2 separate regions of the Homo sapiens genome follow, and region 1 is linked to region 2. Evidence: fine-mapped expression QTL. A gene starts in region 2. The other region holds a variant in brackets. All regions are shown on one strand. Distances are between the middles of the regions. Region 1 has its middle 46 kb from the start of GZMB. Region 2 holds the start of GZMB (granzyme B).

Region 1 (4,394 bases), 46 kb after region 2:
ATTCACATGTATTTATCTCCTTTTGTGAATCATTTATTCATATCCTGTGTCCATTTCCCTATTTGTTTTCAGAATCTTTTATTGTTTAAGGATATCAGTTTTTCTCTGACGTGAACATTACAAATTGCTTATTGAGAGGATACAATGAACTAGAAGTTTTACCAACAATCTTATTTAACCCTCACAACAATCCTCTGACATAGTACTATTATTATTTTCATTTTATAGATGAGAAGGCAAGAGGTCTTAGAAATATTGCTCCAAATCATGGGCTAGCAACCACTGAAAGCCAGGATTTAAACCCATATCTGTGATACCAAAACTTTGATTCTTCATCTATAATTTTGCATGCTGCAGGCATGCAAAACTTTTTTAATGTTTTAAGAATGCTGGGAAATTGAATGTCATCCCCACAGCCCTTTTAAAGTTGTAGCCACAAAACCAGTTATTGTAATTACATCTTAAATGCAGATTTATTGTATCTAGCATGTCAGTACAAGTTGTATCATCATACTTATGCCATAGCAGCATTCCACATTCGTACTTGACAGTTCATTTGGGACTCAGCAAAATAAATATGTGAAGTAAGTGGGTGCTCACATTAAGGCTTGTTGAGAATGATGTGACATCTAGGAGACACCTGGTAAGGTTCATACACTTTGTGAAGATGACATGGTAGGGAAATGAAGACCACTGACTGAGAGCACAGCAACCCTGGGAGGCCTCCAAACTTAACTCCAGGAAGCACCTCAGCCTTTTATCTGGGAAACAGAAAGTTCAATAAAAATGGTCTTTGGGCAGGACGTGGTGGCTCACACCTGTAATCCCAGCACTTTGGGAGGCCAAGGCAGGTTTATTTCTTGAGCCCAGGAGCTCCAGACCAGCCTGGGAAATATGGTGAAACTCCTTCTCTACAAAAAATACAAAAATTAGGCGTGATGTTGTGCACCTGTAATCCCAGCTACTCGGGGGGCTGAGGCGGGAGGATCGCTTGATCCTCCCAGGGTGGTCGGGGTGAGCTGTGATCACGCCACTGCACTCCAGCCCGGGTGTCACAGCGAGACCCAGTTTAAAGAAAAAAATAAAAAGTCTCTGAGGCCCTTTCTGTCCCTGACTTTCTGGAATTCTCCCATTCTTCTATAATAGGCACTTCTTGGTTTCCCTCATTTTTGCTTACTTTATTTTTCTTTCTCTTTCTCCTTGACGTGTCCTCTCTCCTTAACTTCTTTTTTCTCCTCTGATGTGCCTTAAATTTGCCAGGGGCTCCCTTTGGAAAAACCCTGCCTGGCCCTATTATCCCCCTGATCAAAATGGTCACACGTTGGTGGCCTGGGGGCTGCCCTCCTTGACTCATAATGCCGGGACCCCTGATTTACACAGCAGGAGAGGGAGTGATCTGCGAACTCCTGAATTGCCGCCTTTCAGTTCCTGCGGCTGCTCTGACTGTCTGCATTGCGCCCTCTAGTGTCCAGACTGAGTTCTTTTACTGTCTAGACTGGGGAGTCCAGAGCAGATTCTTTTACCCGCCACGTGAGGGAGCAATTCAGGGAAAGTAAAACTATTAGTAAAAGACATTATTTTATTTTCAAATAATCGTAATTTTACCGAGTTCCTAGAAAAATGCACATTCTTAAAATTTATATTGTAAAACTTGTTGAATAGACGATCAATTAGAATATGGGAAGAAAGGTTTGGTTTCTAAAATATTAATAAGCATATTTGACATAGCAACCCAGGGAAAGCATCTAGTCACTTATTCCTTGTGTTCATACAGTCCTGTCCTTTACAGATCCCCAAGAGTGTGCATGTGTTTGATCTAAGTTTAGCCCCGAAATAGCTGGAAGGAGCTATCTCTAGCCCTGACATTTCCATGAAGCTCCAGATGGCCCGCTCAACTCTCCACATGTACCGACAGACAAAACAAATGCAATTGTGTGCAAAGCAGAACTCTAGATTCCTCCTCTCCCGACCCTGCTCCACCCCATTCCCCCTTGGCACCGCCAGCCACTTATT[A/C]CCATAGGCCCAAAGCCTAGGAGTCATTCTTGACCTTTCTCTTTCCCGCACCTTGCAGCCAGTTCACTGGTCATTCCTGTTAGCTCCACTTTCAAAATATATTCCAAATATAACCACTTCTTGGCACGGACACCGCTACCATCTTAGTCCAAGTCCTCATTATCTTTCTTTTGATGACAGCAGTAACATTCTAAGTGGTCTGCGTCGTTCTCCCCTCCCCTTGCCCTCACTTGCTTCACTTAAACAACCACAGCGATCTTAGAAAAATGTATCACATCTGTGTTCAGAACCCTCCAATGACTTCCTGTCTCATTTAGAATTAAACTGCAAAGTCTTTCCCATGGCCTACTCTCTGACCTTGCCCTCCTCCACTCTTCCCACCCCTCACTCCTTTCCACCTGCAGGAATGTCCTTTCTGAAATGCTCTATTCCCAGATCTTTATTTTCTCCTTTGCTTTCTTCAGGTCTCTACTCGAATGCCAACCCCTCAGAAAAGACTCTCTTAGCCACCCTGTCACGGGTAGCCACCTCCACACTCTCTGGTCCCATATCCTGATGTATTTTTCTTTCAGCATTTACCCCTGAGAGAAGATTCCCTGTCTCTGTGTGTTCATACTCTGCCCTCCCCTGACTAAGATGTAACTAAGATGTCAGATTCATGGCCAGATCATTTGTTTTGTTCCTTGCTGAATCCTCAGCTTTAAGCATATAGTGGCCATTCATTGATGGATGAAGGAATAAATAAATTATTAGTTTGAACCTTGTGAAATTGTTGACATTCTAAAAATTCTGGGCCACAAAAATAGCAATTCCAATAGTTCATCTTCATAATATAATATCGTTAGCATTTTATACCTAGGAAAACTGAAACTCAATGAGTCAAGTGACTTCCCCAAGTGAAATAAAGAAAGAATGAGAGGCAGACTGAGAGCACTTCATTTCGTTCATGCAACACTGAATTGTGTTCTGGACACTGCTAGGTGTGGGAGCCACTGAGGAGAAGGGCCTGCCCCATCTCCTAACTCAGCCACTCTGCCTTTGTGGCTAAAGGATCTCTTGCCAGCTCTGACTGGCGGAATGGGCAGGGCTACGTGTGAACCCAGAGCAGCCACCACCTCTCTGCAGAAGGGCCAGTGTCAGGGCAGTGTGGACTGATCCCCACTGCTTCTGTGACCTCTGGCACTCAGGGCTCCTGCCTGGTGGGCCTCGACCCTATTCCTTCTGTCTCAGAGGAAATGTAGAAAAATGTAGAACTGCTTCTGCATAGTGCCACTCCTCTGTCTATCCCCAATCTCCTCTTCAACATTGTGAAGCTGGAAATGACGCACATAGGGCACCCTCTTGACTGCTACTCCCCATGCATTTCTGACCCTCATAAGAGAGGCTGGATGGGAAACCACACTGATCCTCCAATACTTCTATGCTCAATAAGCCATCTGTGAGTTGGAAAGGAATTCAGAAATGGGGAAGGGGGCAGGTCGACCTATTTTGCTTTCACAGCAAAGGGTGTGTAGCATCAGGGTGACATTCAGGGCTGATTATTAGGTTGGTGCAAAAGTTATTGTGGTTTTTGCCATTACTTTTGCACCAACCTAAAAAATGTGTCAAATTTTTCTTCCCCAGACAGCTGGCCCTCTGAGTCACAGTGGGAGCAGTATGTAACAGGAGGGGAGAAGAAAATGAAAAAGCCACACAACTGTCTCTTTCTTTGAGCCCTTTTCCAAGCTCTCCTTAAATTTTCAGTTTCTCCTCTTGGTCATTCTCCCCAACAAGTGCTTTGTTTCAGAATTATTAATAACTGGAAAAGTTCTGTTTTTTTTCTCTTTAACTGGCATTTTGCTTATCCTGTGGCTTATTGAGCCCTAGGGAATTTATGCCCTATAAATAAATGACTATTATTATTATGTAGCTGTATTCAGAGCATTAGTTGAAAGGGAGAAGTGACATTTTTCTTTATTTGCTTTAGAAATGTGTTGTAGTCACAATAGCTCTCCTCCTGCCTGGGATTAATGGCATAATTATTCACACCGGGCAACAGAGATGGAATGAGTTTGAACTTGGCATGAATTAATACACCAAAATATGCCTCTTGTTCTTGCTCACTGCCTAATTAATTCTGAATTATGAAATTCTCTGTGAGCTACCCAAAAAGCATGGTCACCGGATTCTGGTGCAATTGTTCTTTCTTTGCACTAAAAATCAAGTGATTTGATAGTTATGGGCTGTTTGGAAAGAGAATGTCCATTTGAATATCCTAGGAAGGAAGGAACAGACCTCATAAGGGATTTTTCTAGAGGTTTTATAGTAAATAACCTGTGTATGATGGACATGCAAGGGCCCCCAGGGGAGACTGAGCTTTGCATGAACCAGCTTTACTGCTA
Region 2 (4,394 bases):
GAGGCAAGAAAGTCCAGGTCAGCCAACGAACTTCTGGGCCCCGACACAGTGATGGGGCTGCACAATCTTCCCTCTCCTCTGAGGCATAGGAACTAACCAAGAGGCCAGGATGGAAAGGAGGGAAGGGCCGGCATTCCAGGGGGAGTGGAACCAACTGGACCAAGAAGAGCAAGAGTGGCAGGAGTGTGCCTCACCTGCAGTAGCATGATGTCGTTGGAGAAGTTCTTAGGATTATAGGCTGGATGGGGGATGGGTCTTTTCACAGGGATAAACTGCTGGGTCGGCTCCTGTTCTTTGATATTGTGGGCCCCCAAGGTGACATTTATGGAGCTGCACAGAGAGCAGAGTGAGGATGGGGGTGGAGTCACAGGGTATACAGCCCAGAGACAGTGAAGAGCAGGTGACAGCTGGGGCAGGGCTGCAGCTGAGGGGAAATTAAGGGGACAGTCGGTCCCCAGGAATTGGAATTCTGGTAATTGCACCAGGTTTCTCAGGGTTCGGTTCCCCCTAGAAACACAGGTGGAATTGCTTCAGTTTGTATTCTATGCCAAAGTATGCCCCCAGTTCTAAATATGGCAGGCTTGGTCACTCTGCTGTTTCTTACTTCAGCAGCACCTCTGGAACCAACCTTCCCCTCTCTCCACAAACTTAACTGCCCTTTTCTCACCCTCTAAGGAGACCTCCTGGCATGTGTGTTCACAGGAGCCCAGGGAGCTCCTTGGGAAGAAGGCAGGGGTCTCTGTGGAGTGTTTCCAGGAGGGTGTGGGCTGTTTTCTGCTCCTCACCTTCCCCAACAGTGAGCAGCTGTCAGCACGAAGTCGTCTCGTATCAGGAAGCCACCGCACCTCTTCAGAGACTTCTGATCCCAGATCATAAGATAAGCCATGTAGGGGCGGGAGTGGGGCTTGGCCTCATGTCCCCCGATGATCTCCCCTGAAGGAAAAGTCTGTCTGCTTGTGGGCACCCATGGAATCTGCTGGGTGGGCACCTGCTTAGTGGCTCCAGAACTCCTGGGCATTTGGGAGCCTGGGATAGCCTGGAGTTGGGAGTGGCCTGGAGGAAGGGGCTTCAATTTCCTGCTCTGAAAAAGGGAAGAACAGCAGACTTTGGTCTGTAAATCTTTCTTCCATATGTAGTTGAAGGCGAGCATACCTGTCTTAGGGACAGTGAAATCCCAGAGGCTCCTGATCATTCCTCTCCTGACTTTGCTTTGTTTCAGGTGAGTTTCCAAGACCCTTATGAGTCCTGTGGTGTCTAGGATAGTGCTGCTTTCTAATGGCCAGGGTGTAAGTGGAGGGATCTAGATACTGTCATATCCTGTTTCCTAGAGCCTGACATGTAGTGGGTGCCCAGTAAATGTTCATGGCTGCATGATGGACTGGCTCCAGTTAGCCTCTGGATGAGGGCTGGTAGAGCAGTGCTGGTGGAATTCTAGAAAGCAGGGAAGCTGGGGCCTGCCGTAGTGCCTCATCCTTGGAAAGAGGGGAGCCACCAAAGGCCAGGGAAGAAAAGCAGAGTTGGAGAATGGGACTGAGCAAACACATTAACAGTGTTCTGAGGACAGTGATTGTACCAATTCTGCTGTCAGCTGAGCTCTGGGTTTCTCTCCTAAGTAGACAGTGAGAGAAGCACCTGTCTTATCCCAGAAACAGAAGCCAGGCCTACTCTAGAATAATTTAATATTTCTCTTTTCTAGTTTCCCATCCTCTGCCATTTACTTCTAGGAAAGTCCTACTCTCCAGGTGACAAAGGTGGGCTCTGGGGAAGGGATAGTACCCACTGGCTCTTCTTGAGAATGGCCTGCTGCTCTGCCATTCCTGCTGATAGCTTATCCAGCATCACACTTGGGGGGTCTTGGTAGAATGGGAGCTGGAGTTCAGAACATTCCTGGTAGATAGATGGATCAGGAATGTGGAGAAAGGGCAGGAGACCTGTGGGATGGGGTTGGGCCCCCGAGGGTGGAGACGGTCACTCACCTGCATCTGCCCTGGGCAGCAGGAGGAAGGCCAGCAGAAGCAGGATTGGTTGCATCTTCTCAGGAAGGCTGCCCTGGTTGGAGCTGCTGTTGTTTCCTCCTTGCTCTCTTTTAGCTCTTGGGAGAGGAAAGAGGTGGAGCAGGCTCAGTGACTTCATGTTCCCCTCTGGTTTTGTGGTGTCTCATCACAGATTTTCTGTAAATGCTGCCCACCCCCACTGCCTCTGCCTGATGACGTCCTCTGGGTGCTTGTGTGAGAATCATGCAGTGACCACATCATCACCCACAGCTGATGACTCAGAGTGGACCACCTATTCAGCCCAGAGCAGGAACCCAAGCCTATGAAGTGAATTGTAGGATGTGGTATCAGCCAGTAGAGGTACTGGAGCACCAGAAACCTGAGTTCCCAGTGATAGAACCGCCAATGCCTCATGGCCATGCTGCTAAATCCATCAGGATAGTTTCTTTAGCAGGTATGTGTTTGAGCCCTTCTGTTGTGCTAGAACCAAGCATGTTGGAGATGTGTCTCCTTCACTTAGAGAGCTGACCATCTGGTTGAAGAGACGGAAATGCCAGGAGCCAGAGTACAGTTTGGGGAGGGCTATGGTAGCACAATACACAAGGCAGTAACAAAGCATGGCCACCATCTACTAGACCCATCTAGCAACCCATTTATTATCATAGCTTCCTTTCTAGAGAATTTCTAACATCCCTTATTTAGTTACAAATGTTTAGTGTGAGAGTCCACCTCTTTTCTGAATGCTTTCAATAAAAGTCCTGTACTTGACATTTTATTGGGCTAGATTAATGAATTGCTAGGAGTCAAATCCACTTTGGGTAGGCTGGGGTCAGTCTACTCAAGCCACTAGAACCAAGAATGAGAAAGGGCTGGTTCTCTAAAGGACGTTTGTGGTGCTAAATTGCTGATACCATATGAAGTGAGGAAGCATGCCAGGCAGCCAAAGATCAGTAGTTGTGTTGTTTAGTATTCTGTCTCCTGTCCAGAGAGCCACACTTCTTACATAGCAGGCTCAGCACATAACAGGCTCACAGTAAACATTTGCTAAACAAACTACACTAATGCTATCATTATAATGGATGTGAAAGATTGTTGTTTCTGAACAGCCCGTGCCCAATTCTGTTAAAAGACAACTAAGTCTCTCTACATGGTTCGATTCTTGTGATTTGTTTCCACCTTTATATTTTCTGTGAGGAAATTTTTCTATGAGGAATGGTATATCTCAAAATATAGAATTCCAGTGTAAACGTCTTCCTTGTCAATAGCAAGCCAACTACATTTATCAAACTTCTATTTTTTGAACCTAGCTTGCCCCATAGTAGACGTTTTAAAAATAATTTTTTCTGATTATAGTCATAATATATGTTTGTTAAGAAAATTTGGAAAGTAGGAAGGGAAAATATCACTTTTTAACCTGTCTCCCACAGACTGACTGTTACCATAAGCAGTGTGTTTTAAATACTTGGGATCACATTGTACATACAATGCAATTTATTTTATCCTTGATTAACCCTACAAATTAAGCATTTTCCCCATGCTCGTAGAAATCTTAGTCAATACAACTATAGTCTTTCTTTCCTAGGCATTAAAAAATTTAATATGCAAGTAATTTTTAAATAATTTTAGCAAAGCGAAAATAATAAACATTACCTAATTTCTCATCATTCACTGATAACCATCTTTAATGTCTTGAAATATGCTCTAGCACATTTTTTCTCATGTAATATCTGCATTTTTTAAAATTAAAAGGGGATTATGCTAAACATAAGTTTATGACCCATTTAAAAAATTGAGGTAAAATTCACATAACATACAATTAACCATTTTAAAGTATTCAATTCAGTGACATTTAGCACATTCAAAATCTGCAACCACCACCTCTGGATATTTCATATAAACGGAATCACACAATACATGACCTGTTGTGGCTGGCTACATTCACTTGTAATAATGTTTCTGAGATTCATACAAGCTGTAGCACATGCCAGTATTCGTTCTTTTTAATGGAAAAATAATATTCCCATTGTATGTTTATACCACAAGTTATTTGTTCATCTGTCAATGGACATTTGGGTTGTTTTCATCTTTTGGCTATTGTAGCTAATGCAGCAATAATAAGCATTTGTGTACAAATTTCTGCATGAACAATATGTTTTCAGTTCTTTTGGATATATACCAAATATATATACTTTTGGAATTTCTGAGTTATACAATAATCCTATTTTTAATTTTTTAAGGAACCACCAAACTGTTTTCCACAGTGGTTGTACCCTTTTGCATTGCTTATCAGCAACATAGGAAAGTTCCTATTTCTCTGCATCCTTGCTGACACTTGTTATTTTAAAATTATTATCTTCATCCTAATGGGTGTAAAGTAGTATGTCATATGGTTTTGATTCA

The links. PIP is the estimated chance that this variant, and not a neighbour inherited with it, causes the effect.
Region 1: its variant is fine-mapped to the expression of GZMB in whole blood (INTERVAL, PIP 0.99).

Annotation. Positions count from the first base shown.
Region 1 is chr14:24,677,638-24,682,031 of GRCh38, forward strand. No RefSeq gene overlaps it. Among named protein-coding and RNA genes, the nearest start is that of GZMB, 46 kb to the left of the region's middle. RefSeq lists a silencer at 1,380-1,559. The variant A/C (reference allele first, on the strand shown) is at 2,014.
Region 2 is chr14:24,632,130-24,636,523 of GRCh38, forward strand. It overlaps GZMB (granzyme B), which reads right to left and starts at 2,061. Exons shown (of 5, transcript NM_004131.6): 1 at 1,977-2,061; 2 at 786-933; 3 at 195-330. The coding sequence starts at 2,031. It overlaps GZMH-AS1 (GZMH and GMZB antisense RNA 1), which reads left to right and starts at 973. Exons shown (of 3, transcript XR_007064087.1): 1 at 973-1,219; 2 at 2,167-4,394. RefSeq lists an enhancer at 1,440-2,639.